Linked DNA regions of Homo sapiens: region 2 is linked to region 1. Evidence: fine-mapped expression QTL. A gene starts in region 1. The other region holds a variant in brackets. All regions are shown on one strand. Distances are from middle to middle.

What was found. PIP is the estimated chance that this variant, and not a neighbour inherited with it, causes the effect.
Region 2: its variant is fine-mapped to the expression of GOLT1A in sun-exposed skin (GTEx, PIP 0.93).

Annotation. Positions count from the first base shown.
Region 1 is chr1:204,212,821-204,215,727 of GRCh38, forward strand. It overlaps GOLT1A (golgi transport 1A), which reads right to left and starts at 1,168. Exons shown (of 5, transcript NM_198447.2): 1 at 1,062-1,168. The coding sequence starts at 1,086. RefSeq lists an enhancer at 1,039-1,695.
Region 2 is chr1:204,362,068-204,364,974 of GRCh38, forward strand. It overlaps a transcript of PLEKHA6 not described here. Among named protein-coding and RNA genes, the nearest start is that of PLEKHA6, 3.6 kb to the left of the region's middle. RefSeq lists an enhancer at 738-1,291. The variant G/C (reference allele first, on the strand shown) is at 1,486.

The DNA.
Region 1 (2,907 bases):
ATCCCTGACCTAAACTCCTATGATTCTCCCCTCACCTCACTTTGCTCCAGGTATACCCACCTCCTTGTTGTTCTTCAAACACACCAAGTATGCTAATGCCTCAGGGCCTTTGCACTGCCTGTCCCTGCTTCCTGAACATTTCCCCTCCAGAGAGCTGCGTGGCTTTGCTTCCTCACTTCCTATAGATCTCTGAAAAAAGATCTGAATAAAGGCTCACCTTCTCAGTGAGGCTTCCCTGACCACTCTATATAAAATAGCGACCCCTCCTACCTCGAACTCCATAGCCTCCTCTTGTTTTATTTTCATCTGGAGGACTTATCATCTTCTGATATACTATATACTTCTTTCTGTTAATTACCTGTCTCCCCTCTCTAGAATGTAAGCAGGGAGTCAGTTTCATTTAATGTTGGACACTCTATATCCAACACAGTGCTTGGCACACAGCAGAGACAAATCTGTTGAGTGAACAAAAGAATGTTGTCACCAATTCTCAGATGAAAAACCAAGGCTCAGAGGCTTTAAGTAACTCACCCAAATGAAGCCCACAGAGCCACGGTTCTTCCCATGGCCCCAGACTTGTTCCAAGACCTCCTCCCTACCTCTTCCCCCAAAAGAAGGGGAAGGATGTTTAGGAGTGAGGGTATGGTGGTTTGGTCAGGGGAGTGGAGTTTAGTTTTTTATAAGAAGCCCCCAGGGCCACAGGAGACCTTGATGGTGTGGGGAAAGATGTCTGAATGGGCAGAGGCCTCCTGAGTCCACCTTTGTGGCAACCCAGTTCTAAGAACCCGGGATGGGAAAGGGGTCAGTGTGAATGGGGAACCTGCCAGGCCCCCTGGGCACCAGCCTCTAGCTACCTGTGGGCCCTGAGCAACTCCCACCCGCTGGAGGGTAGGGAGCCACACCCCACCCTGCCTGCTGCCCCAGGGTGCCAGCACAGCATCTCCCAGCCCCTGGCTCCAGAGGTCACGCTTGTAGTGACAGAGAGCCCAGCTGGGAGAGAGAGCCAGCCGGCAGGGAGCCTGGCCTGGATAGCCCATTGCAGCCCCGCTCATCCCACTTACTCTGCCATTCGGTGATGGAGATCATGCCGCACTCAGCCTGGGGGGCTTTCCGGGTGGAAGCGGGCAAGTGGAGCGTGGCCCAGAGGACGCAGCTGGTACATGGTCACGGGAAGCTGACCCTTGGTTAAGTTGCGAAATGAGCCTGTGGCAAATCATTAACTCTCCCTCCAGCCCCCGCTCCACCCCCGCACACCACGCAGGTGCTTCTACTCGCCAGCTCCCTCCTCCCGTTTTCCGGTAGGGCAATGCCCCGCCCCTCCACCTGCCGCGCCTGCCCGGGGAAGGCACCGCCCACCTGACCCTTTCCTCGCACCTCGCGGTGTTCTGCGGCTCTCGTCTGCTCCGCGAAACTTAGATTGTATGTGGAAGCATTGGAATCTAGGGGGTGCTCAAGTTTCTTGCTTGGTTTGATAGTGTGGGAAGAGTTGGCATCTGCGCATCCCTTTGGGAATGTACTAAATTCATCTTGAAAGTCAAGCTTTTTGCTCTCTGCTATTGCACATGCTAGGCGCTGGGAGGCGATGAGCGACTGAGCACAAAGCCTGTTGTTGACCTAATGGCAGAGCCAGATCGGGTTAAATCAATGGCAAAAGCGCCATGGGGGAAGTTAGACGTGAAGGTCTTCGACCTCCTTTCCCCAAGCGGCGTCCAAGCTTTGGACTGACTGTGATGTTGAGCTATGGAAGACAAAGCCCTGAATTTGGGGTTGGGGCAGGACTGCACAATTTAGGAGGCCTGGTTCTAGTCTACCCACCAGCTGTGTAGACATGGATTCGTCCTTTGGGCCTGCAAAAAGAGAGGCAGTTAGTTCCTAACATCCTTTTTTCCCATCGCAGAGCAGTGGTTCTGACGTGGCATTGATGCCAGGAGAGCCAACATCCACTTTGCAATGTCTTCTGTGTCCAGAAATGAAGAAATGAATTTCAAAGACTACCTATATACATCATTTAAAAATGCAAATAGGCCTGGCATACAAAATGCATTATGTCTGTAATCCCAGCATTTTGGGAGGCCAAGGCAGGAGGATTGCTTGAGCCCAGGAGTTTGAGACCAGCCTGAGCAACATAGTGAGACCTTGTCTCTACAATAATAAAAATAAAAAATTAGCCGGATGTGGTGGTACCTGCCTGTAGTCCCAGCTACTGGGGAGGCTAAGGTAGGAGGATTGCTTGAGCCCAGAAGGTCGAGGCTGCGATGAGCTGTGATCAAGCCATGCACTCCAGCCTGGGTAGCAGAGCGAGATCCTGTCTCAAAAAAAAACAAACCAAACAACAACAACAAAACCAAGGAAAGCTAACATAATTTTTTAAAAAGAAACAAAAAGATAAATTATAATAAAACATGATGTCTTTCAATATATAAATGTTCAGGCAAGACTTACCAGAAGACATAAATGAAATAGGCAGATTGCTTGCACCCACACATAATATATGTTTGAATTTAAGAGAAATAGAAGATGAGCCATTCTATGCAAAAACAAAAATCACACACATGCAAGAAAATGAAAGAGTAGCAGGAAGTGAACATAGAATAAAAACTGTTAGATAAGGAATAACAGACCAGACGTACTTGCATATGATGAGAGGGAAAGCATCTTAATTGAAATAGGGATAACATAGCAAGGCAAATTAGAGAGCACAAGGTGGAGATAATATAGAAGTATGATGTGCATGCAAAGGAACTCAGTCTTAGGTATGTGTGTATTGTCAAAATAGCTCCCATGGAATGGGGTCGCCATAGAGTACCACAGACACATCAACCTCTGTCTTGAAACATATCAGCGTTGAGGTAAAATTCAGTCTCTGGGATCTTAAAAGGCCTTAGAGATCACATATTTCCAATGGGC
Region 2 (2,907 bases), 150 kb after region 1:
GTAGCTTCAGGGGCATGAGAAGCCAAAGGGAGGGTCGGTGTGGGGTGCATGCCTTTAGCTGGGGGACCAAGGCGGAAGAGATGTGGTAGCATGAAGATCTTAGAGCTACAGCAAGGACAGGTGAGGCGGATGGACCAGAGATAATAAATTCCCTTTGCCAAATCTAAGTTCTTGCTCTGCGAGCCCAGAAGAGGAGAAGCAAGCCTCACCTAAACAACTCCAATGGGGAAGGCGTGAGGTGGCGTGAGGGAGGGAGGATTCCACAGAAAGCACCTCTGCGATCCCGTCTCTCCTCTGCTCTACAATCACTGGTCCCCATTGCTCAGAGGATCAAGTCCAAGCTTCCCAGGCACCTACTCATGGTCTCCAAACACACGGGTCCTCCCCACCTTTCTGGTGCCATCCCCACTCCCTACCATACAGTCTTGGTGGCCACTAACTTGACTGGCTCACTGCCCATTCAGTGGAACTGCATCCACATGGGTCTCTCTTCCTCGCAGAACATGCCAACTAGGGGCAGCAAAGGGAGCTCCGTGGGATGAACTAGCTCACTGCAGCCTCCACCTCTACCTGGGCTTTAGCAATCCTCCCTCCTCAGCCTCCCAAGTAGCTGGTACTGCAGGTACACACCACCACATGCAGCTAATTTTTTAGTTTGTTTTACAGACAGAGTCTTGCTATGTTGCCCAGATTGGTCTCCATCTCCCAGGCTCAAGCAATCCTCCTGCCTCAGCCTACTGAGTTGCTGGGACTTACAGGTGTGAGCCACCATGCCTGGCTAACGATAACCTGTGTGACTTGGAAGCCCAGCTCCATCCCTGAGTAACTCACTGACTGAACAAATTACTTGACTATCCAGCCTGTTTTCCTCACCTGCAAATGGGCTTCTTTGAAGCCCAGCACATTCACTACCTTTTCTCCTCGGCCGCCTCCTTCTTTACTGTTCTGGGGTGTTATCTGCCTTTCTAAGCCTAGAGCTAGTGGGGTCACTGTACCAGAACTGCTGCCCCAGCACTCCTGTGCTCTGTCCTGTCTGCCTTCTGGAGACAACAGAACTGCTTTTGGTGGCTCCCCCGCCCCTCCCAGGGCCCCTCCTCCGGGGTCTCGCAGTTCGGGTTGGGGTCTGTACTGATGAATCCCAGAGACCCAGCACAGCCTTGGAGGCTCACCGGGGTCTCACTGCCCAGCCTGGAAGCACGCGGGGCAGAGACCTGGGCTTCTGATCTCTGCCTCCCTGCAACCCCTCAAGAAGCGCTGAGCAGCCCGTAGGCGCGCCAGGGCCGTGGGTGGACTGCCTGCCTGCACATTCTCGCACCTTCCTGGAGGAAGCTTCCAGAACAGAACAAGGAAGACCAACGGCTGGGTGGGGTTCCCTCGGTGGAGGAGCCGCAGGGGCCCAGCTTGGGAACCGGGTTATCAGGGGTGTGGCTCTGCAGAAAGCGTCCTGCCACGTCTCCCTCCCTGTCAACCTTGGGGAAGGAGAGA[G/C]GCACCCTTGGGGACAGAACTGGCCAGTTTCACCGGCGGCGGCTTCCGCAGGAACGCGGAGGAGGGAGACAAGGGGGCGGGGGAACACTTCCTGTTGGGCAGGAATGGGTGTTACATAGCTAGATCTTTAAGCATCAGAAAGACAGCTACCAGACCCACTATGGCTGGGAGGTGGCAGGGGATGGGAAAGGTGGCCCTGTCACCTCCGAGAAGGCGCCTTCAGCCTGGGGAGACGCTGTGAGCAAACCCCCTGAAAGCCTTGTGGGGCCATCATGTGTGCTCTGGAGCCCTCTTGTGGATTCTTGCGGTAAGTGCATACAGGCTTGCAGTGCGTTTCTCCCACGTTTTAACCTTTCGCTTGTTCTCTCCTCCTCCCACCACTCTTCCCAGTAAATGACACCTTCAAAACCACACGCACACTCGAGCAAAACGTCTGTTGTGGATACCATGAGAGTCACTTCCTAAATACCCTGAAAGAAAGAGCTTTTTGACACACAATTAACACATTTGTCTGCTCCTGGGCAAATGTCAATATTTGCTCATTGAAATTTCCCTCCCTCATCCACACTAAAAGAAACAAAATAACTCCTCCGGTTGTCTGGCTCTTATTATTACTTGGAATCCATGTCTGAAGTCGTTTGAGTTTCTAACTCATCCACCAACCAAATGTCATAAACCTTTGTGGGAACTGTGAAAATAGGAACGAACGGTGAGCCAGTCGTTCATTCATTCACTCACTCATTCAGCAAGAACTTACTGAGCACTTCGTTTGTCCAAGCAAGGTGCCAAGGATGCTGGGAAGCAGCCGTGCCATCATGCTAAGAGCAAAGCCTGTGAAATCAGGCACACATGAGGCCGCCTTCCCGCTTGCTTTCTATTAATACAAGCTTTGTGACATTGAGTAATACATACGAAGAACCAGTTTTCCCATTATTTGCTAAAAGCGGGATGATAGAACCTCCTCATAAAGGTGCGGTGAGGAATAAATGAGATAATGTCATAAAGCACTTAGCTCCTAGAGTGGCGGCTGCTGCTATGATATACAGAATGACCACCAGGTCTGGAAATGTATGTGAACACAGAATTCATGGCTGGTTGATAATTAAACAATATTGCCTGTGTCTCCGGACTTTACGACCCCCCTGTGTTGCCCCTGCCCTTGATGAGTTTTCAGTCTAGGCTACTGGTTCTCGAAGTGTGGGCCCCAGAGCAGCCACAGCAGCATAACCTGAGAATGTGTTGGAAGTGCAAATTCTAGACCCTCTGAATCCGAAACTCTAGGGGTAGGGCCCAGCCATCTGTGCTCCAACAAACCCTCCAGTGATTGTGATACACGCTCCAGTTGGAGAGTTACTAATCTAGTGGAAAATGACACAAGTATAAGCAAATAACTACCATACACGGACACATCCCTGAAGAAGT